Linked DNA regions of Homo sapiens. The protein of the gene in region 1 interacts with the protein of each later gene in a pairwise test. Each region holds a gene or a part of one and is shown in the gene's direction. Other genes may lie near its edges.

The links.
Region 2: the proteins of TFF2 (region 1) and ELAVL2 interact in binary tests that used the Homo sapiens proteins (3 or more experiments, as listed by UniProt).
Region 3: the proteins of TFF2 (region 1) and ZHX2 interact in binary tests that used the Homo sapiens proteins (3 or more experiments, as listed by UniProt).
Region 4: the proteins of TFF2 (region 1) and PDLIM5 interact in binary tests that used the Homo sapiens proteins (3 or more experiments, as listed by UniProt).

Annotation. Positions count from the first base shown.
Region 1 is NC_000021.9:42,347,969-42,354,924, reverse strand, and holds the start of TFF2 (trefoil factor 2 precursor), read left to right. Parts: upstream 1-3,930; 5' UTR 3,931-3,967; coding exon 3,968-4,046; intron 4,047-4,894; coding exon 4,895-5,044; intron 5,045-6,956. UniProt on the Homo sapiens protein: Inhibits gastrointestinal motility and gastric acid secretion. Could function as a structural component of gastric mucus, possibly by stabilizing glycoproteins in the mucus gel through interactions with carbohydrate side chains.
Region 2 is NC_000009.12:23,760,220-23,767,246, reverse strand, and holds part of ELAVL2 (ELAV-like protein 2), read left to right. Parts: intron 1-2,147; coding exon of another isoform or gene 2,148-2,238; intron 2,239-4,997; coding exon of another isoform or gene 4,998-5,012; coding exon 5,013-5,241; intron 5,242-7,027.
Region 3 is NC_000008.11:122,966,637-122,973,663, forward strand, and holds part of ZHX2 (zinc fingers and homeoboxes protein 2), read left to right. Parts: intron 1-6,605; coding exon of another isoform or gene 6,606-6,632; 3' UTR 6,633-7,027. UniProt on the Homo sapiens protein: Acts as a transcriptional repressor. Represses the promoter activity of the CDC25C gene stimulated by NFYA.
Region 4 is NC_000004.12:94,650,941-94,657,967, forward strand, and holds part of PDLIM5 (PDZ and LIM domain protein 5), read left to right. Parts: intron 1-3,519; coding exon 3,520-3,700; intron 3,701-6,486; coding exon 6,487-6,607; intron 6,608-7,027. UniProt on the Homo sapiens protein: May play an important role in the heart development by scaffolding PKC to the Z-disk region. May play a role in the regulation of cardiomyocyte expansion. Isoforms lacking the LIM domains may negatively modulate the scaffolding activity of isoform 1.

The DNA of each region.
Region 1 (6,956 bases):
TCTTTGAACATTTTATGCCATGTCTAAGTCTGTTTTTGTTCACTGATTTTTCTAATGATTATGGGCCATATTTCCTAGTTCTCTCCACACATCTAGTAACTTCTGATTTTCTGTTAGACGTTAGGGATGTTATGTTGTGTATTTAGGTTTTGCTGTCTTCATTAGTAAAGTGTTGAATGCTTTGCTCTCTCAGGTAGTGTTATCGGTTGAATTATTTCCCCCAAATTCATATATGAAGCCTTAAATTCCATTACCTAAGAATGTGACTACATTTGGAGACAGTGTCTTAAAAGGGGTAATCAGGTTAAAATGAGGCTCTTAGGGTGGGCCCTGGTTCAATTTGACTGGTGTCCTTATAAGAAAAGAGTCGCCAGAGATGTGCGTGCACAGAGGAAAGACCATGTGAGATATGGGGAAAAAAAGCCATCTGCAAGCAGAAAGAGGCCTCAGTAGAAACCAGATGTGCTGACACCCTATCTTGGACTTCTGGGCACCAGAATTGTGAGAAAGTACACTTCTGTTGGTTAAGCTACACAATGTGTAGTATTTTGTTACAGCAACCTGAGTGAACTAATACAAGCAGTTAATTTACTTGCAGGTTAACTTGATTCCTGCAAGACTTGTTTTAAAGTTTTGTTCGAATGGATTTTGAGTAGCTTTCCTCTAGAAAGATCAGCCTTCTTTTTACGGCATGGCCTTTATTGAATGCTTGAAGTGGTCAACACCTCTGGCTGCTCTGAGCTCAAATGCTTTCCAGCCCCACGAACCCTACACTAGTTGTTCAGTTTAGCCTCCCCAGTGATTGTTCTGTCCCCAGGGGCTACTTAGCCTGGCCTTGTGGGCACGAACAGCATAGTATTTGATGAAAAGCTCAAAGGACACACTTTTATATTTCTGGAGCTTCCTTCTCTTACCTTGATAACCCGCCTGCCTCAGAAGCTTCCAATTCTGACCTCTGTCTCCTCAGCCCGATGGGACTTCAGTGCTATTTGGGTTCCCCTCCCTGTGCTGTAGTCTGGAGAGCGTCTCCAGGAAACCAAGGCAGCCATGGGACTCCCCCTATTGTTTCCCTTCTCTCAGGGATCGCTGTCTGGCACTGCCTGCTGCTCAGCATCTGCAGACTGTTACTTATGTAGTTTTAGAGTTACTCATGGTGGGAGGCTAGCCTGGTACCAGTGACTCCATAGTCAAAAGCGGAAGTCCACATGGGTGATAGCTGAGGTGGTTCCCATTTGTTGACTTTCTATGTGAACTGATGGAAAGTATCATCCCCAAAGTGTGCAAAATGGAAGTGAGCAGGGGTGGAGAAGGATAAACAGAAAGAGGAGGGCGCCAGCCCTGAGTGCCTGGATGGCGCTGAGATCATGCGTTGAGAGTGGCAACAATTCAAGGTAGGTGTCGGCCATGCTAGGCAGATGGCATAGGCACAGAGACAGTGGGAAACAGCAGTGAGGAAGACGGTGGGTGAAGTGAGCACTGTGGAAATCAGGCTGGAGAAGCAGGAAGGAAGGATAGACAGGAGGGGGCTCACAGGGGAATAGGGGATTGGAGGGCTTTAGGATTCAGACAAAGGGAGAATGTTAGGAGCTTAGGACATCCTGGGCAGAAAGGACATTTGCATACCCTCTTTCAGAGGTGGAGCTCAAGTTCTGAGTGTGGTCATGGGAGGGTGGCAGAAGTGGCAGAAGTGGAGTGGAGATGGAAGTTCCTAGAGATGAGGAAAAATAAAATCTGAGCGACTGTGAATTTTGATGAAACATCGACCGCCATGTTGAAGATGGCTGGGATGTGGCCAAGTCTTAGCATGACAAGGAACACAGTGAACTCAGTGCTGAAATTCTTAACGAAAGGGACAGGCTGCACAAAGGTCGGCAGATGACAGCAGGGCAGGGACTCCGGACATGGCGCCCTTCCCAGCCTGCATCTCCAAGGAGGATGGTTTTTGCATGAGGGTGAAGACTTGGGGCTCAAAGTCAATGTCCAGCCCCCAGTCTGAGCCCATGTGATGGGGACGTGGCCACCAAGTACAGTTGTGGAGGTTGTGAACAGCTCCACTTTCAACTAGCGATGCCACTCTATTGCAGACGTCCCATCTCGTGTAATGGTTTCCCAACTCTGTGGGCACTCAGTGTCCCTGCGTGGGGGCCTGAGCAGGATTCCAGGGAAGCATGCCTATGACAACACAGGCTTCCGCCAGGGCCAGGAGAGTGAGAGAGGCTGAGAAGTGGTCTCTTTTGCATGGGTCAGGTGGTCGCAGCAGGAATCCTGAAGGGGCTGCAGTGAGCGGTGGGAAGTCGAGTTGATGGGGAGGAAGCAGAGAGGAGAGGTGGGTGGGAATATGAGAGAAAACAATGACTCAGTCACTTATATCATGATGGTGACTAAAGTGACAGGGATGTAGAACAAGGAAACTGACCTTGCCAGAGTTTTCATGGATCGAGTCCCTGTGGTTGCCCAGTGGTGAACAGTCAGCAGAGAGCCTGGAGGTACTTGACCCGGACCCAGAGGAGCCCTGGAGGATGGAGCCTGGAGGACGGGGGCCTGGAGAATGAGGGTCTGGAGGACGAGGGTCTGGAGGAACAGGGGCCTGGAGGACGAGGGTCTGGAGGAAGAGGGCCTGGAGGACAGGGGCCTGAAAGATGGGGGCCTGGAGGATGAGGGTCTGGAGGATGAGGGTCTGGAGGAGCAGGGGCCTGGAGGATGAGGGCCTGGAGGACAAGAGCCTGGAGGACAGGGGCCTGAAAGATGGGGGCCTGGAGGATGGGGCCTGGAGGATGGGGGCCTGGAGGACGGGGGCCTGGAGGATGATGGCCTGAAGGATGAAACCTGGAGGATGGAGCCTGGAGGATGGAGCCTGGAGGATGAGGGCCTAGAGGATGGGGGCCTGGAGGACAGGGGCCTAGAGGATGGAGCCCTGGAGAATGGGGGCCTGGAGGATGGAGCCTGGGGGACGAGGGCCTGGAGGATGGGGGCCTGGAGTATGGGGCCTGCTCTCCAGACCCTGAGGACAGCCCCGTGGTGGACCAAGGATTTTGGGTTTCCTGCGTCTCTGGGCCCCTGACTGCTCAACCATCAGAAACAGACTGGCAACCCCCTGTCATTTCCCTGGCGTGGGGAACTTCGGGTCCCCTCTGTCCTTCCCACCACACTTTTCCCTCTTTCTTTCCGGGTGTCTACTCTCTGGCTTCTGTCTTCTCTGTCAGGTCCACAGAATCCTTCTCCAGCACATCCTACCCCAGGAAGGCCATGGGCTGGGTCCCAGGTGCCATCTTTCAGAAGATGTAGAGCATTCCCATGGAACAAAAATAACCCATTTCAGGGGTTGGCTGAAAATGAACTTATTAAAACCTGCCTGTCACAGGCTACTCCGCTGACCCTGTCAGCCTCATCTCCATGGAGAGCAGCCCCTCCTGCTGAAGATGGGACAAAGGGCATCGTGCTGCGGTTGGGGAGGCTCTAACCACAGCCCTGGGAGCAGTCTCTTACCTCCTCTGAGATGCTTCCCTTCCTCAGGGAGGGGACTTTTCCATGCTATCTGCTGGCCTGTACATTTTCCCCAGTAAACTTGGCCCTAATATTTTCTAAATTCCTGTGGTCCCTGCCCACTCTATCAATAGAAATGCATAGCTTATCCCTTCCTGGGTGTGACCCTGTGTGTGCCCAGCCCCAGACCTGCACGTGGCCGGTTTTCCACGCTGGCAGCCTGGCATGACCCAACTCTCTGTCCAGGGCAGGAAGAGGTATCACCGAGCAGGGAGAGAGTCACCCTGGCCCGGAAGCCTCGCCTGCACAGGGCACAGCTGCCTCTTGCCTCCTCTTCGCCTCCACGGTGGAAGGGCTGGGGCCACGGGGCAGAGAAGAAAGGTTATCTCTGCTTGTTGGACAAACAGAGGGGAGATTATAAAACATACCCGGCAGTGGACACCATGCATTCTGCAAGCCACCCTGGGGTGCAGCTGAGCTAGACATGGGACGGCGAGACGCCCAGCTCCTGGCAGCGCTCCTCGTCCTGGGGCTATGTGCCCTGGCGGGGAGTGAGAAACCCTGTAAGTGAAGGAGAGGGTCTTTTTATGTGCTTTCTTTATTTCTCTTAAAGAAAAAAAAAAAGCACAACCATAAATTAACTTGAGAGGGGGAATGGCTATAAAGGCATCTGGCAATGTGTGTTGTTCACATGGGATTTGCCACTGCTCAGGAGGGTGGCTCCAAGAAGGGCCTCCCTCCTAGGGAAAGGCTGAGTGACGGCAGGTGTCAGCGGGCCCCGTGTCGGGCCAGGAGGGCATTCCCACCAAGGGTCCTTGGAGTCCCAGAGCACTCACCTCTCGCCTGGATCTTGGCCTTGGGTCCATCTGTTCACCCTCCTCTAGGAGGGTTTTGTTTTTGTTTTTTTCCGAGACAGGATCTGGCTTTGCCGCCCAGGCAGGAGTGCAGTGGTGTGATCTTGGCTCACTGCAACCTCTGCCTCCCAGGCTCAAGTGATCCTCCCACCTCAGCCGCCTGAGTAGCTGAAACCACAGTTGTGGACCATCATGCCCGGCCAATTTTTTTTTTTGTATTGTTTGTAGAGATGGGGTTTCGACATGTTGCCCAGGATGGTCTTGAACTCCTGAGCTCAAGCAATCTGCCCGCCTCGGCTTCCTAAAGTGCTGGGATTATAGGTATGAGCCACCATGCCTGGCTTTTTTTTTTTTTTCCTTTTAAACTAATATAACAATTTCAGCAAAGCCCTATCGGCTTCTCAGGAGGAAACCGCATTGCTTAAATATGGGCAAGATAAGACTTTGTGTTTCTCTATGTGGCAACAAGACAGTAGAGGCATCCCCTAGAACCTCTGAGAGAAGGAGCAGTGTGGTCTGGGGTACCAGGGTGGGGCCGACTGAGGGTCTTTCCACAGCCCCCTGCCAGTGCTCCAGGCTGAGCCCCCATAACAGGACGAACTGCGGCTTCCCTGGAATCACCAGTGACCAGTGTTTTGACAATGGATGCTGTTTCGACTCCAGTGTCACTGGGGTCCCCTGGTGTTTCCACCCCCTCCCAAAGCAAGGTAATCTTCCAGGGAATCTTCCTGGGCCAGCAGCTGGCAACCCAGGACCCAGCTTCACAGGCGGAGCCCAGAGCAGGGGCCGGAGGAGGCCCAGTTGCTAGTCTAGGGTTAGCCTGGGTGGGTTAGTCTCGAGCTAGCCCCGGTTGGTTAGTCTGGGGCTAGCCCAGGTTGGTTAGTCTAGAGCTAGCCCAGGTTGGTTAGTCTGGGGCTAGCCCAGGTTGGTTAGTCTGGGGCTAGCCCAGGTTGGTTAGTCTAGGGCTAGTGTAGGCTAGTTAGTCTAAGGCTAGCCCAGGTTGGTTAGTTTGGAGCTAGCGCAGGTTGGTTAGTCTGGGGCTAGTAGCCCAGGTTGGTTAGCCTGGAGCTAGCCCAGGTTGGTTAGTCTAGGGCTAGCGTAGGCTGGTTAGTCTGGGGCTAGCCCAGGTTGGTTAGTCTGGAGCTAGCCCAGGTTGGTTAGTCTGGGGCTAGTAGCCCAGGTTGGTTAGTCTGGGGCTAGCCCAGGTTGGTTAGTCTAGGGCTAGTGTAGGCTAGTTAGTCTAGGGCTAGCCCAGGTTAGTTAGTTTGGAGCTAGCACAGGTTGATTAGTCTGGGGCTAGTAGCCTAGGTTGGTTAGTCTGGAGCTAGCCCAAGTTGGTTAGTCTAGGGCTAGCATAGGCTGGTTAGTCTGGGGCTAGTAGCCTAGGTTTGTTAGTCTGGAGCTAGCCCAGGTTGGTTAGTCTAGGGCTAGCGTAGGCTGGTTAGTCTAGGGCTAGCCCAGGTTGGTTAATCGGAGCTAGCCCAGGTTGGTTAGTCTGGAGCTAGCCCAGGTTGGTTAGTCTGAGGCTAGTAGCCCAGGTTGGTTAGTCTGGGGCTAGCCCAGGTTTGTTAGTCTGGAGCTAGCCCAGGTTGTTTAGTCTGGAGCTAGCCCAGGTTGGTTAGTCTGGGACTAGCCTGGACTGCTAGTCTAGAGGTAGCCTAGAGGACTGCTAGTCTAGAGGTAGTCTAGGGCTAGCCCAGGTTGGTTAGTCTGGGGCTAGCCCATGTTGGTTAGTCTTAGACTAGCCTGGACTGCTAGTCTAGAGGTAGCCCAGGTTGTTTAGTCTGGTACTAGCCTGGACTGTTAGTCTAGAGGTAGCCCAGGTTGGTTAGGTTGGTTAGTCTGGGACTAGTCTGGACTGTTAGTCTAGAGGTAGCCCAGGTTGGTTAGTCTGGGACTAGCCTGGACTGTTAGTCTAGAGGTAGCCCAGATTGGTTAGTCTGGGACTAGTCTGGACTGCTAGTCTAGAGGTAGCCCAGGTTGGTTAGCCTGGGGCCAGCCTGGACTGTTAGTCTAGAGGTAACCCAGGTCAGCCAACAGTGAGATGAAAATTTCCCACCTACCCTGTTTCTACACTGTTAGTTCTTTCAACAGACATGTGTGTGTGGAGCCATCAGTTTTACTTTAGTTGAGAAAAAAATATATATATATATAGTAGGTCTCCTCTAGTTTTTGAAGTGTGACTTCTGAAGAAGCTTCCATGGGGAAATGAAGGTATTTAATAGGACAGCAGTAACATAAGGGCTGACAGCCCTCAAATGTTAGGGAAGGAAGTGAAGCCTTCTAGGGTTCTTTGGGAGTGAGTTTTATGTTAGTGCACGGGATCAGGACCCAAGTTGTAACGCCGACGAGTGCTCAAAGGAAGGTTGTGTGTGTGTCGTGCACCTGTGTGCGTGGAACCAGGCACGTCCTCTGGAGAAGGAGGATTCATCCCCAAGATTGTTGCTGGGAGGCTTGCTGGGCCCCGCAGGGAAACCAGGCAGATGGTGGATTGTTCACGAGCGCCCACTGAATGGCAGTGTCTTTGGGAATCAATACCATGTCCAAACGCTTTCCATCTTACCAAGGTGCCCACAAACCTTTTCTCATCTTGGCCCGGGGGACCACCCCATTTACTGA
Region 2 (7,027 bases), on another chromosome or scaffold:
AAATTCATAAAGGATTATTTAAATAAAAAGTTTAGAAGTCTTTATGGCTTTTTGGAAGTACCTGTGTGTATAAAAGTAGAGACAATCTTCTATTTCCCAATAAAACCTACGCTTTCACCATAGTAACAGCCATTTTACCTTGGAGCCCAGTGAAAGTTTAGAATATTCTAGATTCATCTATGCTAAAGTGCCTTTTCGTAAATTATTACTTGGATAATAACAGGAGGAAAAGCAGTCTGAATTGGCACAAGTGATGTCTAAATTAAGAGGAGAATATATATTGAAACATTATTTTTTTAAGCCTTAAAATTAATGGCTCTGTTTCACTGGAATATGGCCTTTTTTTTCTTTCCGAAGAGTTTCAGAGCCAGTGGAATCTATAAATAGTACACAGCCCAGTTGTCTGTGGTAGATTGAGTAGAGCAGAATTGCCTGTCCTTAAGTGAAGGGGAAGTAGCTTTACATTTTTAGTAACTGAATTGTTGGCCAGCATAAAGGTAAGGGCCATGTGAGCAACTTATTTATAACTTCCCATAAAGGTATGTGTCTGCCTCAAGCGGAGAAGACTGTCTGGGGTGCTTGAAATGTAAAAGTGCAGTAGAATCATTTTCCATACACAGCCTTCCTATCTAGTTGGTGCAATAAAGTGATTGTTCACCTCCCTGGGGCTTTCAGAAAGAGGGGTGTCAATAGATTAGCTCATTAGTGTCCACCTCCTATGAAATAGAAGGGACTGAGGCAGTTAAATTAAAATCTGTTTTATGTAGTGAGCAATGTTTAGATTGAACTCCTGAAGGTATTCAGGACATACATTTATGCCTGCTTTACCCTGCTGGGTGTGGTCCTGCTCATGTAGTCTTAACTACAGTTGGGTTCTTATGAAAAATCTTTCATGGGTGTAAAGCACTTTTTCACAGGTTCAGTTAAACTATAAGTAGTTTTTTGAAAAATAACATAGGGTCAGACCAAAATCTCTTGTTACAGTGGGAGAACGGAAGAAGAGTAAAATATTTTCATGGCTTCCTGTAAAAAAGTATGTTAATCCTTTTTGATAGATGCCAGAAAGTGGAATCCATCGTTACTGGCGGCATTGCTAATATCAAGAGTAAATCACAGCCAGGATTGCCTCTCAGGATAAAATTTTTATAATTATCAATAAGTAAAAGACATTTTTGGACCTCTTCTGTTATTCACTGTCTATTTTTAGAAACTAAGTTTTCTGATTATATTGACCATTTGAAGCATCTGCATATATGGCAAAAAAAGTAAACTTTGGCTTTTGTGCCAATATCATGGCTCTGTTTGGTATTTGGGCAAGTTTCAATAAGTGGTAAATGGCCCATTAACTATATTGGAGGCCTCATAGCAGCACTAATTTCAAATCGTGCTGGGTTTACAATTTACATATTAAAAAATGTTCACTTGATTTCGTTCAGGGACAAAGCTGACATCCTATGCGAGCATTACTCCAAACAATCCTATTTATCGGTCCAATTATTTCAATTGAAAGATGCTGGTTTACTGCCTCTTAGTATATGTGAGCAATTCTCATTGAAACTGTTAGAAACCGTTTGACTGTAGTGGCAAAATAACCTCACAGGGTTTCGATTCACTTTTAATTTTAAGTCCCAGGATTAAGGATCATTTATAGTATAATGTAACAGTGTGGGCAAATATAGCTTCTCTTAATGTCTTTCTGATATTTTGGGGAAAGAGTGCTTTTATGCAAACCAATCACTTAGGAATTGCATGATGACTTTTTCCCACTATAAAATTTCATTCACATTTCCTCCCTTCTCCCACATCCTTAAGAGATAAGACAGCCTGCAGTATTTTGCTTTATTTTACTTTATTTTTTAAATTTTTGAGGTGTGGTTTACATTAGTTCTTCAGAATAGATGCCAAGATAACTAGTTAATACTGTTTTAAAATCAGGCTCTTAATTAAAAATGCTTATATTTGTGCAAGAAAACTACATGTTGAAATGAATTTGGAAAGATTAGATTGGAATTGCCTCAATTTCAATTAAGCCACACTGCATGGACGTGCTGGGAATATCAATACAATCACTGTAAATTTTGTACAAACTGATTTGTTGCATTATCTTGCTCATCTAACATACGGTACTTTTTGTGTCCATATTGCAGACGGCAACTCCAAACTAACATGGCAGTCAGACTGTGTGATGTGGCTTCTCTGCTTAGAAGTGGTTCGTGGGCAGCAGAGCCTTGGACCGGGGTCTGTGGGATTTTTCTTAAATTCTGTAGGCTACTTTTTTTTAGCATGTTGGAGGAGTGCTGAGGCCATACCAAACACTTGAATCTTTCATTTGGCATACTAATTATTCTTACATTTAACCTATTGTGGTATGGCCATCATTAGGACTTAAAGCACATTGCAATTTTAACTGTAGTGGTGTATGTAGCATCAGAACCATGCTCTCGTATGTAATTTTTTTACAATCTAAATTAGGATTTAGCGCAGACTCAAAAGAGTGACAAGCTTTTTTAAAAAAACAAAAAAAGTTTTGGTATGGTCTGAATACTAAGTTACCGTAATTCTATACATTCTGTTTACTATGTATTTTTTTGGTTACTAAATTTTGAAGTTATTTACAATTCTTTATGCTCCAAAAAAAAAGTTGAAATTGTAAATCTGGCTGAAAATTATTTGCCCAGTAACTGTTGAAAGAGTTTGCATTCTGTGAACAGTTGTGTTGAGCCTATCAATGGAATATGCATTATTTGTAAAATATAGCACATTAGTATCATTTTATTCTGAGCAGATGGTCCTATAGCAGAGAGATGCTGTAATTTTCAGCGCACACAGCCTACTGCAGCTGTTCACTTGAATGTTGGCTTAGGAGCTCATTCTTGCCACCTGAACATGGAAATAAATGTGCAATTAAGTGAGGAGTGTTTGTTGTCCTTTCTAAATCTTGCTGATTTCAGTCAATGAACACTTTGTATTTCAAATGCTATCCCAATGAGCTTTAGTCCGAATCTCCCATTCGGGTCTCTTGTAGTTTCTACACCCATCCAAACTTTTCAGTAGTGATTTAAGTGTCTTTGGCCACTTTAATCTTGTAGCTCATTGTTTCCATAACTGCTGGGCAAGGGTTAACCCCAGAAGAATTTTTGCTGTGAAAAGAGTGACCCACAGCTAATATTCTACAAACCAGAACAGTTATGTTTAATTAGGAAATCTGAAACTTCCCTTTTCAAATTCAAATAGATTTGCTAATTATAATAAAACCCATATCTTGAATTATTTAAGATTTTTAAATACAGATTTCCAAAGGTTTATTTTCCTTCATCCCTTTAAGTATTCCCTGAGAAAACTTAGCTTACGTAGAGAAACAGCTTGCAGCTTGTAGAATAAATTCCCACTTCTTTGACAAGGAAATGAAGTCACAGAGGGGTTACAGGTTGTTGGATATTTCAAAAGCTATTCTGGATTTTGCCTCATGTTTTTTTATCATGACAGCACTGATTCTTGTTCAGTCTGACCAGTCTCAATATGTCCAACACTGCCTTCTTTTGTAAACATCTCCTGGCAGTAGAGATTTCTTCCTATATGTTTATCTGCTAATGTGCCCTTTTATTTTTCTTAGGCAATATGTGTTTTAAAAGACAGTTTTTTCTCTTTCCTTGTAACCCTCTTTCCCTTTACTTTGCTTTTTTTCTTTGCCTCAAGTTCTTTGCCTTTTCTATGTTAAAGCTTCCCTAAAACTAGCATCCCGTCAATTCAGAATTGTCAGTTTTGAGAAGCAGTTCTTTGTGGAGGTGAGAGATGTATGCAATATGAAGGATAATCCTTTCAGTGATGCGTTGATTTTTAGATTCCACCACAGTCTTGGCTGTCCAAAGATAGGTAGTTAGTGGAAAATGATTTTGGAAAATTTGGGGCTGTGGTTTGTGACTCTTTTGCATAGGATTGGTTTTAGGAAACTAGATTTAATACTGCTTAATAAGTGATTTGTAGAGTAGCCTGAACAGTTTGAGGCCATTTTCCCCAATTCTGTTCTTTATCTGGTGTTTGGAGTTTATAGATACCCTATTACTTGCATTTTCAACAGGCTTATGTGCTCAGACGAGAATTCCTTGGGCTGGTCTGTTTGCAAAAGTTGATATATTTACATTGTTGTTTTCATTGACTGGATAGGTTTTCTTTTTTCTCATTAAAAAGCAGAGTCAAGGAGAAACACCATATCGAAGTGTTTGGGGATTTTATTTTGATGTTGTAGATCAGTCACCTTGTTGGTAATTTTTAGCTGCCAAGGTTGACAGGAGTGTCCTATTAGATTCTACCAGTTAGACAAAGTATTCATAGCTCATTCCCAAGTTACCTTACAGTTAGTTCCTTTCCACTCCCTAAAATATAGCATCTGTTTTTTTCTTACCAATGGTAGAGATAAGATATTGTCCATCAAAAACGTTTTCAATATGTAACCAAAACAGTACATGTTGACAAATTTATATTTTTAAAAGTACTCTTGCTCTTTGATTTTTAAGTTAATGGCTATCTGTCAGTTTTAGAATATTGAACCTCTTAGGATAACTGAAAATCTCTTCAGAGTTAGGTAGGTCATTTTTTTGTTCATTTTTGTAGCATGTTAAGCACTTTTATTTTCTAGTATGATTTTTAGTTAGGGTTCAATTCTGTGCCCTTTGGTACTTGATTTTCTCATCTGTGGACACTGCAGGTGAGTAAGGATATGTGAATAGACCCAGAATGTGATTCTAGAAAATGTTTAAGATTTAAATTGTGCTTATATGCATGTATGGAATATGTATGTGAAAATATAGTTGTAACCTTAAGATGAATAGGTTAATATGAAGTGAAAATTAGTGTAGGTATTACACTTTTTGTTGAAGCATTGTTGTAATTTCATTAGAACGACTTGTGTTTAGTGACAAGTGTTTAAATTCTTGGATGGAGTCTCTAATAGGTTGTGAAATATGAATTCTGACATTTCTTGTTTTCTCTGTTTTTAGCAGGTAATTGCTGCCATGGAAACACAACTGTCTAATGGGCCAACTTGCAATAACACAGCCAATGGTCCAACCACCATAAACAACAACTGTTCGTCACCAGTTGACTCTGGGAACACAGAAGACAGCAAGACCAACTTAATAGTCAACTACCTTCCTCAGAACATGACACAGGAGGAACTAAAGAGTCTCTTTGGGAGCATTGGTGAAATAGAGTCCTGTAAGCTTGTAAGAGACAAAATAACAGGTAAGCAGTTTTATGTAGATGATTTATATTTAACGGATCGTGTCTCAAGATAGGAGAAAATAATAAGATTACTGCTTGTAAATAATTCACTGCTGCAATTTTACATATCTAGATTTTCTCTCTGTTATTACATCAGCAATATGAAACTTAGTTTAAAATTTTCTTTTTAAATCATAAACTATTTTGGGGGCAGTATATATTTTAACTGGACTTTAATGTACTCTGATCTGGACAGGATCTTTGGAAAATCTTCTAAAAGTATATGTATCTGGGATAGCCAGTGTCATGTTAACTTTTATCTTTTAGTACCCTGAGTGTATTTAAGTTAGCATTTCAACAGTGAGATACAATATGTGTTTGGGAGAGGGGAAAAAATCTTAAAATGTGTTTTCCTTATGTTAATATAATCATTTTGCTTATATATGATAAAATAAATGGTAATGTTCACATTGTCAGTGTATAAACATTTTCACTGATATAATACCAAGCGTGATGAGATCTTATGTTCCGTTCCTTAACAAGGAAAGGACATGGTATATGATTGTCCTTCTTGTTATAAAGATAAAGCCTTAATTATAGTACATTTTGAATATTAGGTGAAAATCTCCTTAGTATTTTTTAAGATTTGACTAAATTTTTAGAGTAAACCAAAACCTAATTTAAAGAGCACGTTCTTGGGATAGAAGGGTTAATGCTTCCTGCAGGAGTTGTTTTCAAACACTAAAAATACATGAAGTTAGACATACATATGAAGTTAAACACTAAAAATATACGAAGGTAGACAGACTCTGTGGACTTTTCATGTTAATTAAATTTGATTGATAGTGTATACCAAATTGCTTTACAAAGCTTATAACCAAAAATATAAAATGGAATATTTGAAATGAGTAAAAGATACTTAAAGGCAGTGTGAAGAATGAGACCAGGAGTCTGAACTCTCACCTAGTCATGTGACATTGGATAAGTCAGCCCTAGACTTCTGGTTTCCATTGGCAAAATAAGGTAAAAGGCAGAGAAAAAGGGGGTAACACTGGGCCATTTCTAAGTTCACTTTTGACTTTTTCATACATGGGACTTTGAGCTATTCCGTTAATCGTTAGGGCTCATTCTCTCCAAGATCTGCAAGTGAGTTCTAGAGCCAGCCCCTGGACTTGGCTCATAATCATATTTCCTCAAGCTACAGATTGAGATTCACAGAGACAACTTACTGAAATCAAGTTAAAAAGCTAAGTACAAACTGATTGTCATTGATCCATAGCAAACGGCCATTATATTTTAATTATGTTGCTTAAATGTTCACTATGATATTAGGAAGGTGGTTCTTATGTTTCTGAACACTGATAATCAGATGGATGAGATTTTTCAATTTCTTTTCCAAAATGAGTGTGATAAGCATATGTGAAATTTATAGTGTTTTTAATAAGTTGAAAAAGGTGAAGAACAAAAGGCTGCTCTTACGTCTCTGTCGTGATGTTTTTAAACATCTTTTTAACATGTTTTAAACATGTTATCTTTTGTTTTTAAAGTAAAACAACACCCCTGACATGTGGATTTTGCAACCTTTTTAATATAAAAGATAAAAATATGATAAATGACTTGAGGGCTATGACACAAATGATGCAATTTCTGATTGCTTAGTAGAGCTCCCCTTACTATTAAAAAGAAAGATGCATGAACAGAGCACAAAAGTCATGTTTTGTTATGAAACTGTTACGAAATGATACATTTTATCATTTTATAAGATGAAAATATTAGACAAATCATACATCTTTCATATTAGGCATCT
Region 3 (7,027 bases), on another chromosome or scaffold:
ATGATCTTTTTGTGATCAATTTCCTGGGTGTTCTTTGAGCTTTTTGTATTTGGATATCTAGATCTCTAGCAAGACCAGGGAAGTTTTCCTTGATTATTCCCTCAAATAAATTTTCTAGACTTTAAGATTTCTCTTCTTCCTCAGAAGCACCATTATTCTCATGTTTGGTCATTTCACGTAATCCCAAATTTCTTGGAGGCTTTGTTCATTTTTTTTAATTAGTTTTTGTCTCTGTCAAGTTGGGTTAATTCAAAAGCCTTGTCTTCAAGCTCTAAAGCTATTTCTTCTACTTGTTTGATCCTGTTGTTAAAACTTTCCAGTGTATTTTGCATTTCTCTAAATGTGTCTTTCATTTCCAGAAGTTGTGACTGTCTTTTCTTTATGATATCTGTTTCTCTAGAGACTTCATCCATATCCTGTATTGTTGTTTCAATGTCTTTAAATTGGTTTTCACCTTTTCCTGGTGCCTCCTTGAGTAGCTGAATAATGAACCTTCTGAATTCTTTTTCTGGCAATTCAGATTTCATCTTGGTTTGAGTCCGTTGCTAGAGAGCCAGTGTGATCTTATGGGAGTGTTTTAGAACCTTGTTTTATCATATTACCAGAATTACTTTTCTGTTTCCTTCTCATTTAGGTAGACTGTTTCAGTGGAAACATCTGGAACTCAAGGGCTGCTGTTCAGGTTCTTTTGTCCCATGGGGTGATCCCTTGATGTGTTGCTCTCCCCCTTTCTCTAGGGATGGGGCTTCCTGAGAGCCAGACTGCAGTGGTAATTATTGCCCTTCTGGGTCTAGCCACCCAGTGGGGCTGCTGGGCTCCAGGCTGGTGCTGGGGAATGTCTGTAAAGAGTCCTGTGATATGATCCATCTTCAGGTCTCCCAGTCTTGGATACCAGCACCTGCTCCAGTGGAGGTGGCATGGGAGTGAAGTGGACTCTGGGAGTCCTTGGTTGTAGTTTTGTTTAGTGCAGTGGTTTTCTCAAATGCTGGTTACACCAGCAGTAAAATTGCCACATGGACAGACTCAGGACCTCTGGTTAGCCAGGATGTTGCAGGCAGTGGCATTAGCTGTTGTTTGCTCCTTTGAAGCAAGGTTGTTCTGTTATGAGTTGCTGTAATGGCTTGAGTTGGTTGGCCTCCAGCCGGGAGGTGGTGCTTTCAGGAAAGCGCCAGCTGCAGTAGTAGAAGGGGATATAATTCTGCCCTACATTGGCCAGGATGAGTACTCGGGTTTCTTAGGCAATGGACAGGACCACAGAACTTCCAAAAGATTATGTCTTTTTTCTTCAGCTACCAGGGCAGGTAGAGACAAACCATCAGGTGGGGGCAGGGTTAGGCGAGTCTGAGCTCAGACTCTCCTTGGGCAGGGCTTCATGTTAGTTTCTTTATTTAGGGCTGATGAGAAGGCGGTGCAGAAAGGTAGCTCGTGCAAGTCTTTGAGGTAAAAAGTGGTGGAGCTGGAATTCAAATCCACCCCTACACCCACACATGTAAGCACTTTGGGGAATCTGCCCAGTGAGTTTAAAATACAATTCCATTTGCTCTGGTTCTATTAAATTCCCCTGGCCAATATGCACTGATAGGCCAGGAGCAGGAAAGGCATTCCTACTGTCTCTGAGCCTCCCTGCAAGCAGCTTGAGGAATATATACCTGGCCTGTGGGTCTCAGCAAGTTCCCCAACCCTAGAGGCCCTTCAAACCACGCAGGGAAGGAGAGCTTTGGCGGGATGTGGCCAAAACTGACTCAAGCCTGGTGTACAGACAATTTGGGATGGCACGGAGTTTTTGTCATCCACTGGGAAGTTGCTTAATCTTCCTCCAGTCCAACACATTTCCCCTTTTTAAATTCTAGTTAAAAATCAGACTGTGCCCCCTACCCTCAATAAAAGAAATGAAAGTTTGAACTCAAATATTATGAGGCAGGCCAGGCACGGTGGCTCATGCCTGTAATCGCAGCACTTTGGGAGGCCAAGGCGGGTGGGTTACCTGAGGTCACAAGTTCAAGACCAGCCTGGCCAACATGGTGAAACCTCATCTCTACTAAAAATACAAAAATTAGCCAGGCATGGTAGTGAGCGCCTATAATCCCAGCTACTTGGGAGGCTGAGGCAGGAGAATCACTTGAACCTGGGAGGCAGAGGTTGCAGTGAGCTGAGATTGCACCAGTGAACTCCAGCCTGGGCAGCAAGAGCAAGACTCCATCTTGGAAAAAAAAAAAAAGAAAAAGAAATATTATGAAGCAGACCAGACACAGTGGCTCACGCATGTAATCTCAGCATTTTGGGAGGCAAAGCCAGGTGGATCACTTGAGGCCAAGAGTTCGAGACCAGCCTGGCGAACATAGTGAAATCCCACCTGTACTAAAAATACAAAAATTAGAGCCGGGTGTGGTGGCACACACCTGTAGTTCCAGCCATTCGGGAGGCTGAGGCATGAGAATTGCTTGAGCCCAGGAGGTGGGGATTGCAGTGAGCCAAGATCATGCCACTGCACTCCAGCCTGGGTGACAGAGCAAGACTCTGTCTCAAAAAAAAAAGAGAGAGAGAGAAATATTATGGAGCAGTACAGAAATAGACAGTGGAGTGATGTTGACCAGGGGATGGGGCAGGGGGATGTGGGGAATTTTCATACAATGGGTGTAAAGTTGCAGTTATACAGATGAGTAACTTCTGGAGGTATGTTGTACAACATAGTGCCTGTAGTTAATAGGAAGATATTTACTTCAAAATGTGTTCAGAGGGCAGATCTCATGTTATATCCTTACCTCCCCACTGCCCCCCCCAAAAATAGACACAAGCAAACTTTATGTTTGTTACTGGATTGTAGTGACAGTAACATGAGTGTATGCATATGCCCAAACTCACTAAATTACATCCATTATGTGCGGCTTTCTGCAAACGAGTTATACGTCAATAAAGCTAGGGCAAAGAGGGAAAAAATGCAACCAGAAAGAAAAGACGTTGCCTACAGAGAAACTACAGTTAAACTGACAGGTTTGTCCGTATCAAAAATAGAAGCCAGATGACAATGGAACAAAATGTTTAGCAGATAACAGGCACTCGGCAAATGAGCAATAAACCTTGCTACACCTCTCAAAAAAAATGTTATGGAGAGATAATCAATCACTCTCTCAGTGTTTGTTTTCCTTTCTCCTGGAGTGCAGTGTTACTCACTCCCAAGTCCCTAGGGCCCTAGAGAAAGTTCTCCTGGGAAAATTAAAGAGAGACAGAAACAGAAAGCTGTCACATGGGAAAACAATTCTAATGTTTTTGTTTCTCCAATGAGGAAAGTAACAGAGAAGCAGATTTTGCTAAAGAATTAGTACTTCTTAACATTCCAGGTTTTCCCCAAGACAGAAAGGGAGGGTGGGAGGCAGTGGGTTCCTGTCCTGGGACGTGTTCACCGAGAGCCTGGACATCACGTGGTAGAAATGTCCCAGAGGCCATAAGGAAATGCCTGTCCGATGGCCTTGCAGCATCCTCCAGGGCTCTGAGAGGTACTCTAGGATGAGGCACTGGCCCTTTGCTGGGTGACTGTCTCTGACCAGGTAATAGGACTCTGAGAGAAGCCCAGGGGAGTTAGCAAGAGCCACACAGCCCAAAGCACTGCAATGCTCTATAGAACAGCAATCCTGAAATGTGGACTTTGTCACCACCCTTGGGTCACAGCCACTCCTCTGACAGCACTATGCTCACTTTCCATTTTCCATTCATTGACAAATGCCTGTTGAGTATGCTGCATGGGCCAGACTCCACAGGGAGCGGATGGGGGGGTCAGCCTGCTTGCTTTGCACCCTGTCTGTAACCCTGCCAGCAGCCCGTGGGCTCTGTGCAATGGAAGTGAGACTCTGGGAGGTTAAGTAACCAACCTCAGCACGTAGCCAGGAAGTGGCAGATCCTGGATCCCAGCTTTCTCCAACTCCACAGCTCTTTCCACCCCATCCTGCAGTCCTGTGCTGACCCAACGTTCTTTAGCCGGGTTGGGAGAAAGAACATCGGTAGCTGTCTTCCCGCCTTGGGCCTTGTCTCCTAGGATCTGGAAGTGTTCAGGGGGACATCCAATCAGTGGCAGCCTCCCTCCCAAAGGTGGTGGAAGTCCCCATTTGCTGGGGAAAACCCTGTTTCTTGGAAAGCACCGGCAGAGGCTGGCCGTGGGCTACTGTGCCAACCCAGGGAGTGCATGTGGCTCTGCCTGGGATCAGCAATAAGGCTCGTGGTCCTCACTGGGTGCCCCAGCCCCCTACCTTTGAAGCCACCATGCTCTCTTCAATTGCTACCTAGCTCTGTGCATGGAGAGGCTGTGCATGACCTGGACCCAAAATAGGTACAGGGAGGAGCAATTAAGAATCAGGAGGCTCTGAAGTTGGACTGGCCAAGGTGGAGTCGGGCTTCACCACTCACTGGTTACCTAATGTTAAGCACAACATTTAATCTCTCTAAGCCTCCATTTCTTCGCTATGAAGTGGGTCTGCCAATCACCTGCCAGTCACTGTAAGGAGTAGATGAGATGAGCCGTATTACCACTTAGCATGGGGCCTGGTGTGAGAAACTAGCTACTCTCACTGTTGGAGGGAGAGTCATGATCATTCTTGTTTTTGACCATGCCACTGAGCAGGTCCTGGCCTAAGAGAAAGCACTTTTCCTCCTGAGCTTCCTTTTTTTTTTTTTTTTCCTGGTGAAATGAGTGATCTTGACAACATCACCTATAAGGATCCCTGCAGTGTTTACAACTTGGTGACTCTGGCTGGATGACTTTTAGGTAGTCCAGATTCTAAGGTCACCCCTGGAATCTGGTTTTATCTGCAGACTTTTCTTTTATAAATTGGTTTCTTAACTCCAATATTCAATCTTACTCCCAGGAGCATCTAGGGAATGTGGGTGCGTTTAACATCCAGATGTTAGGCATGAATGGCATTATCGATGATCAGCTGATGCCTCTGGCTGAGAAGTCCACTCTCCTTGCTGTTGGCCCCTGTACAAAAAAAAAAAAAAAAAAAAATTCCTTCTCAGGGCTTTCTCAGCCAAACAGCCTTACCAGGAGGGAGGCAAAGAAAAGGCCAGTGGCTCCGAGAACCTACAGATCTGAAAAACTTCTAGCCTGTCATGGAATACTGGCTGTGTCCTCTAGAGACCTGAGCCTTGCTTGGATCCCTTTCCCAGGATCTCTAGATCTTGGGAGGAGACAAAAGTAATGATGGAGACCTGCCCCCATTTCCTCTACCTACCACAAAGTATTGCAAACTGGATGGCTCAAAACAATAGAAGTTTATTGTTTCACAGTTCTGCAGGCCAGAAGACAAAAATCAGGGAGTCTGTGATGGTTGCTTCCTTCTGAAGGCTGTGCAGGAGTCTGTTCTGTGCCCATCTCCCAGCTTCTGGTGTCTGCCGACAGTCTTTTGCATTCCTTAGCTTGTGGATGCATCAGCCCAATATCTGCCTCAATCATCGCATGGTCTCTTCCCTGTGTGTGAGTCTTCACATCTTCCCTCTATGCACATCTGTCTCTGTGTCCAAATTTCCCCCTTCTGTAAGGACACTAGTCATGTTGGATTAGAGTCCACCCTGATGGCCTCATTCTCACTTGATTTAACTGTGTTACCTCTCTAAAGGCATTTCTAATAGGGTAACATTCTGAAGTACTGAGAATCAGGACTTCAATATATACTTTTGGGGGGACACCATTCCACCTATAATAAGGTCCTTGGACTATTTTCATTACTTCCAAGGGTATAAGAATTAAACATTTCTTCCTACTGATTCTTAATAATTCTGTTTATTAAGTGCACGGACTCTAGAGATTACCTGGGTTTGAATCTTGGCTCTGCCACTTACTAGCTGTGTGATCTTGGGAAACTTATTAGGCCCCTATATGTTCAGTTTCCTCAACTGTAAAATAAGAATAATAATAATATTTACACCTCTTAGAATTCATATAAACATTAAATAAAAACACATTTACAATGCCTCATCTTATCACTCTTCTATATCCTACCACGTTTGGAAAAGGCTCCATCTAATAAAAACAGCAGAAGTATCTACAATACTTACCATGTGCCAGGCACTAGTCCAAATACTGTTGTGTACATCAACGCATGGCATCATCGCAGCAACTTTCTAAGGTGGGTGCTAGTGTCATCCCTGTTATACAGAAGCAAAAACTAAGCCCTAGAGTGATCAAGTCCTATAGGTACAGCCCTGCAGCCACTAAGGGGAGAAGTTAGGACCCAAATCCAGATTTGTCTGACTCCAGGGCCTTTTAGGAGCCACTGGGACTGGTTGACTTTCTAGGAATAATAAAAGGGTCTTGTAAGGATGAAAAGAATCACAGGCCACCACCTTCACTTGCCCAGAAAGTCACTCTGTTTTCAAAGGCCTGATTCTGGAGGCTTTTCCTATTATGGCGGACTGTGCTCAGAAAACACACTCGTTTCTTTACAACAGGCCCCGTACATGAAGGGCATGTGTCTCTCTTCCAAGCCCCAGGATGACTTTGGAAGGCCCCCACCCCAACCCAGGAGAGCCAGGAAGAAGCAAACCATGATGCCTTCCCCCCAGGGAACAATGGTCATTTGCCTGACATCTTGACTCTGTGGTTTTGTGTCTTCTAGGGAAGTCTGTTAGAACTGCTGTGCTGATCAACGGGACGCTCCGTCTTTGAAGAAAGAAGAGATGGTCTCTCCCCAGCCATGGGCCACCCTTGCCAGTGACTCCAAGTGGAACTACTTAGCTCGCGTGTGCCTGGAGGGTGCGGGAAGTCCAGCGACTCTCAGACGCACCTCCCAGAGGACCGGTGGGAATTGTTCATAGTGCCAAAGTCCTACTACTGCGTTTTCAATGGGTCCTTGTACATAGTTTGCTCCTCTGCCCTAGCCCTCACCTCTTGCTATACTGGAACCGATTTGTACAATGTGGGAATTTTGTTACCTTTTTAATCAAGGGCAACTTCCTTTTCCAGCACTACCATTGTAAGGTTTTTTTCAGGAGGGAGGGCTAACCACCTTGCTTTTCTCTTTTCTCTTTTTCTTTTTTT
Region 4 (7,027 bases), on another chromosome or scaffold:
ACATGTACTTAGTAAGGGCTCACAGGACATCGAATACTAGAAGAGATAGCTGAATACTTAATTCCACTCTGCAGTTATCTAGGCCTGTCATTCCTGTTCACAAATGGAAACCCAATCCTACCTGGAACAAGAAGAACTTCTTTAGTGTTAATCCTGTGTTAATGAATTTGTTAAATTAGTCTTTGCTGACACAGAGAAGAAAACACTTTGCTATATGTGAAAGATTAATTTTATTGTTTAATCTGTGCATAATTTCAAGGGCATTGATGGAGAAAGATGCTCTTTCAGGACAGCCAAGAAGTATCAAGTTAGGCCAGTAGTTGCCCTGAGCATGCTTGTTTAAGAAAGGAGATCTGAGAGGAGCAAGGGTCATTTTCAGCTTGTTTTTTAAAGGTGCAGTGGGAATTTCTTTACTGTCTAAAATTCCTTTTGCTATTTGAAAGGAACTAATGAAATATTTTAAAGTCATCCTTTTAATGGACTGTAGTTTTAATTTATGTATTTATAGTGAACTATATTCCAGCAAGTTTGTAAAAAGACTTTTACAGGTATGTGAAATATAAGATAATCTTATAAATTACAAAAGGGGAAAAAGAATGAAATTCATCGATAGGCTCGTTAAAAATGAAGCTAACGTCGAGACTGGACGATACTAAAATAATGACCTGCCCACTTGCCTCTGGTTAGACTGTAAATCTGGCTTTAGGCCTTCTAGTAGTCTACCAAAAATGAAAGGTAGTTTTGCAATTTACAATAAGATAAAAATAAGACTACTGCTGAGGAAAAGCATAATAGTTCTTGCTGCAGAAATCAGGGAGGAATTTTTCTGAATGAGACCATGTGAAAGTGACGCTGGATGAGATCTAACAACACTCCAGCAACAACTTGCAGGAAGAGCAAGGGTGAATTTCATAGAGCTGTGTCCTGTAACAACTACCAGTACAGGTTCATGTATCACAACAAGCACCGTTCATAAAAGGAATAATCCTGCGGGGTGCAGCAGGCCCAATATGCTGTGATTCACAGAACCCAGTTTTCTGATGATCTGACTTGAACTCAATACATATTTTAGAAAATCTGGCAAATGGAATGTATTTTCCTTGGTCAGTTATTCTTAAATGTCTTTTTTTCTTCTCAGATGAACTTTGTCAAATATTTGATAGCATTGATAGACATGTTCCAGGAGCAGAGCTTTTCATTTTGTTCCAGGTACATACCAACACTTATGCTTTAACAGAATGCAGTTTGAAGTTGGATTGACTTCTTTGAAAACTGAGAAGCCAAATAAGAATACTAGCCTCAAGAGTCCTCCAGCCTTATGGATGAGCTAAAGATGTGCCCTAGTAAAAAACTCACCCTAGTAAATGGCTTTGAATCTGTTTTAATGTGCAGCCAGAGAGTAGCATGAAACCCCAAAGCTCTACCATGCTCTGTGTTATGGTCACAGTAAATTGAGCCTGGAAGATTTTTCATGCGTGTATAACCAGTTGCCCACCTGGCGGAAAAACACAGGGCACTCATCAAACTTTGTCTGGCTTTGAGCAGTGTGATTCCTGGTTTATCTTTGCTGATAAACTACTTGCCAAACATACACTGAGAAAATTAGATGAAGGAACTCGTTGAATAGGATTGTTATTTTATAAGTCAGTTGAAAATGATGGACCACTTACCAAAAGTAATATATTCGATTACAGAATAGGTGATCTGTAGCCTTTCTTTTCTGGCAGGAATTAGTAAACAAAGGCATTCCTTATTAGTCATAACAAAATTATGGTACCCTAAAGTTTTAAAAATAATAATAATAAACTGCCTATCTCAAACTTAAGAGAATGATATGTACTAGCTTATACAAAATGGCATCATGTTATTAATAAGAAACAAGTTAACAAAAAGTAGGGCTAGAAAATACCCTCTTACACCCCACGTAAAAATTTTTAATCACTCATCAAGAGCCTTTCTCCTTTTGTGACTCTTGCAGAATTAGGTGCTGATTCTGAGTAAACATCAATATGGTGACAAAGAATTTACAGTGGGAGATAGTTATTGAATAGCAAGGTTTATGTTATTGTCAGAATTTTAAAAATGCTGTGACTTTGCGATACTCATTGCTATGACTTCTCCTGTTAATAATCTGCCTGGAAGTCTGGTGTCTGATGCTTACCAACAATTACCATGTGGTCGCTTAGGGATGATAAGTGATGTTAATGAGGTCAAAGGCAGAATATCAGTTGACTAGAGCGGCATACTAGAAATCAGGAAATTCAACTTCTGGCCTTGGCTGGGTCAGTGATTTTATGATATTTGTCATATCTTTTGAACATTCTGTACCTTGGCTTCTCCATCTGTTAAACTGAATTCATAATAACTGTCCTGGTCTGTCTCACAGGAATGTTGCATGGACAAATTAGATAAGTGTAAAAGTGCCTTGGAGGTAAAGCTGCTCTATGAATATAAATTAGTGTGATATAGCTACTGAAAAGTATGTTGCAGAGGCTAGAATGGTTAGTCTCTGCAGGCTTCATGACTAGATAAGGCTTCATAATGGATTCCTGCCAAGCAAACCAAGCCCATCTTATCAGTTCATGACCATAAAGTATTTAATGGGGAAAAAAATCTCTTACAAACATTTGTTACCTTGATACAAATGTGTGTTAAAAATCGGTCATGTTGGGGAGGGGGGAGAGGGAAGTTGGTGCACAGTGGGTATAAAATTTCAGTTATACAAGATGAATAAGTTCTAGAGATCTGCTGTACAACATTGTGCCCATAATTAACAATACTACATTGTACTCTTAAAAATCTGTTAAGAGAGTGGATCTCATTTTAAGGGTTCTTACCACAATAAAATTAAATTTTTGAAATAAATCAGTCATATTTGAGTGAAATGAAACCTTTCTGAGTAGTTTCAGACAATTGATAATACCTAGTTTACAGTTCCTGTAGTCATTTTGGAGGGTGAGGACTTGATGTGTTTAGTAAAGTTGAGAAATAAATACATGAAAGAATGTGTGGGGAAGAGAAATTGTGGGGAAGAGAAATTGTCTCAGGTAATAGTTATTACTATTTTTAGCACTATGACTTACCAAATTGAAGTTTTTGTTTGTTTCTTTTGTAGAAGTGTCAAAGTCTCATCTCTGCCTAAACCATATATTTTTTTCTGGTTGCCTCATGTTCTGTCACAGTCACAGTTAACATCCTCATTCTCAATCCTACCCATGATGCAGACAGATTGCCTCATTTCAGCTCAATAAAACATCACCAAATTCCCTTAGGCAGAAAAAGGGTGGGGAGTGCCCTTTCTTGAAGGAATCCCTTAAGTGCACGTCTCCCGTTTTCTTTTCACATCAATGCAGAGTCCCTCTGTGAATTTACAACACCCAACACCCATGAGTTCAGTCCTTAAGAAGGAAAATTGAGCAAGTATTTAATTGGTTGGACATTGCATAAAAGAGGTCCATATCCAGGCTAACTCTAGAAATTTTATTCTCAAACTTAGTTGGCCTCTTTTTCTTCTGTCAGAGGACCATTCTTAGTGGCACTGGGGAAATCTTGGCACCCAGAAGAATTCAACTGCGCTCACTGCAAAAATACAATGGCCTACATTGGATTTGTAGAGGAGAAAGGAGCCCTGTATTGTGAGCTGTGCTATGAGAAATTCTTTGCCCCTGAATGTGGTCGATGCCAAAGGAAGATCCTTGGAGTAAGTATTGGAAACGTTTTTATTCTGAATGAGTTTTAAAGTAGAATAATTTTTTGATATGAAAGTCTTCTATCACTTTAACTTTTTATTTTCTTCTTGCTTTATGCCCTCTCTGCTTTCGGCACTATTTATTATTGTAAAGCAAAACTAAATAGACCTCTGTGGAAATATATCGGACTCATGGGGTTAGGTTGTCTTTGGTTTTGTCTCACTGAGTGCTGGCTTGTCTGGTGAAAGTCTAGCCACTGTGGGGAAAAAATAATTTACTGTGGGTGTGCTTCCTCAACAGGAGCCTGTTTGCTCAGGAATGAAGAGGTCGCATAGGACCACACACATCTGAGTTCTTAGAACTGACACCTTCACTGTTTTAAATTAAATTCCATAGCTTTTATAAGAGCAGTATTTCCCTACTTGTCAGAGTTCAAGCACAGGACACTGATTTCATGAAATATATAAAACATGAGGTTTATAAATGATATATTTTTCTTGAATACATACAGTGTTTAAAAATATAACCTCAGTTTTATGAGAGTGCACATGTGATGGAAAAATAATTTTTTTTCCTTTTTTGCAAAAAAAGGAGTAATTTAGGAATCAGATACAGTACATAATAAATAATGAATACATGAATTTCTTGCTCTGGAATACCTAGTTTCCAATGATAAAGTAAGGGTCAGGCATACTTTATGGTGACTAGGAGCTGGAATCTGATTTCAGAAGAAGCCAGAGTACCTGGCTTCACACAAAAATTGGACATGGCCCTGCTGAACTCTAATATACTCTCAATGTGAAAATATGATAATGAAACTCTAATTATTGTTAATTGAGAGAATAGGTAGTATGAATTATTGAGTAGTCTTAAGATATCTCTTAGGATATCCTTAAATATGTCTGAAACGTTGAAGACACTTAAAATTATATATATGTCACCTGAAATATTTCTAGATTATTGATTTGTGTAATATGTTGGGAACAAAGAAGTGGAATGGTTCAGACTGTACCTTCCCAAATGATAACAAATAATTAATAGAATATTCATTAATACTGTTTTAGTGTATCAAGGTATTCTATAAATGTTAGAATAACAAAACAAAGTGAAGTTAGAGTCTTAGACCCAAATAAAGTTCTGGGAAATGGAAATCTCATACTCATTGCCTTGGAGATGGGCCAGAACTTCAATAGCTTGTCTAGATTGTATTTTAGTTATTTGATTACCTGTTAAAGATTTCTCTCAAGGATGGAAAGGGAAGAATATTCTGGAAGCCTTGGGAGATAGTTTGATTCAATATACATCTTCTACAAATGTTCATGGTGAATTTTTTGGATCTAAATGTCTGTTTCTTCCCATTGTCCTTCAGTAGTGAACTGTGACAATTTCTATGGCTAATAAGTCTATATTATTTCATTTTATTTTGATATTTTTTATAAAAGAAAATAGTTCACTCAAGCACAATTAGAAAACACAAAAAATTTAAAGAATAAATTTAAATGACCTAAATATTTACCAATCACAGATAATTACTGTTAACCTTATGATGTGTTTTTTTCTAGTTTGCTCTTTATAAGTAATGTGTTTACAAAATTGTAATCATGCTTTATGTATATGATTTTTTGTGATAAATATTATAGAAAGAGTATTCACTACTCATCCAAAATTATTTTAATGGCTCCATCTTTCTCTCAATCCAAAGAAATGATTTCTTGTAAAACCAACACCCAAAACCTCTTTTACTAACTAATATCTGGCCCAAATCTTTATAACTTGGTATGTTTAACCATTGGGCCATTGCTGACTAGAATATGGTCCAAATTTTACACATTCGAGTCTGTGCTTAGTGCCATCTTAGCTGATTTCCAAAAGCCTAAACACGTGTTAAACTGATTGGATTACATTATATTTTTATTATATTTTATTACATTATATACATTTATATACATTATATACATGTAATATATACAACTATATATAATTATGTATATTTTATTATTTTTATTTATTTATTTATTTTTTTGAGACGGAGTCTTGCTGTGTCACCCAGGCTGGAGTGCAGTGGCGCGATATCGGCTCATTGCAAGTTCCACCTCACGAGTTTATGCCATTCTCCTGCCTCAGCCTCCCAAGTAGCTGGGACTACAGGCACCCACCACCACGCCCAGCTAATTTTTTGTATTTTCAGTAGAGACGGGGTTTCACCGTGTTAGCCAGGATGGTCTCGATCTCCTGAACTCGTGATCCGCCCGCCTCGGCCTCCCAAAGTGCTGGGATTACAGGTGTGAGCCACTGCGCCCGGCCCCATTATGTTTTGTTATTAAATTATATATATTATATTATTGCTTCTAAAATGCACCAAAGTATAGGTTTGTTTTAATTTTTAAATGCTTCCTCCTTCCCCCAGAACTTTTGCAGATAATACCATAAAACCTTGGTAAGTTAATGTTTCCTGACACCCTTTGAGAAGAAGCAGAAAGTTTTGTAGCAAGCATTTATGAAATGCTTACTTTATTCACTGTACATATAATGTATAAATAACATAGTGATCATTCTTTAAGTTTATTGATTGGCATTTGTAAAGAACACACGTCTAAATATGCATCCGTTTAGATGATTTGTGAGTCTGTTCTTAAGTATCTCTTGTTACTTTGAGGGAAAGCTCAAGACAAAAATGAAGTATGTGTGCCTACTTTGGATTAGCTCTACAGGGATTTACTGGTACAGATATTAGAATAAACATTTATGTATTTATTGTCATCTTCTTTTTTTACATCCAATTACCTTTCTGTAACAGGAAGTCATCAGTGCGTTGAAACAAACTTGGCATGTTTCCTGTTTTGTGTGTGTAGCCTGTGGAAAGCCCATTCGGAACAATGTTTTTCACTTGGAGGATGGTGAACCCTACTGTGAGACTGGTAAGATCAGGGAGCCATTTGTTTCTTGAATTTTGAATAAAGGTAAAACATTAACCCTTATATTACTATAAAGCTCAAGAAAATATTAGGCAAAGTTATTTTCTTAATTGTTTTGGAAGCATTTAATGCTGCTCTAAGCATGTAGAAAAAACTATGTAGATTTTTTTTTTTCTTTTGAGACGGAGTCTCACCCTTGTTGCCCAGACTGCAGTGCAATGGCCCAATCTCGGCTCACTGCAGCCTCTGCCTCCCAGGTTCAGGCGATTCTCCTGCCTCAGCCTCCCGAATAGCTGGGAATACAGGCATGTGCCACCATGCTCGGCTCATTTTGTATTTTTAGTAGAGACAGGGTTTCGTCATGTTGGCCCGGCTGGTCTCGAACTCCCGACGTCAGGTGATCCACCTCCCAAAGTGCCGGGA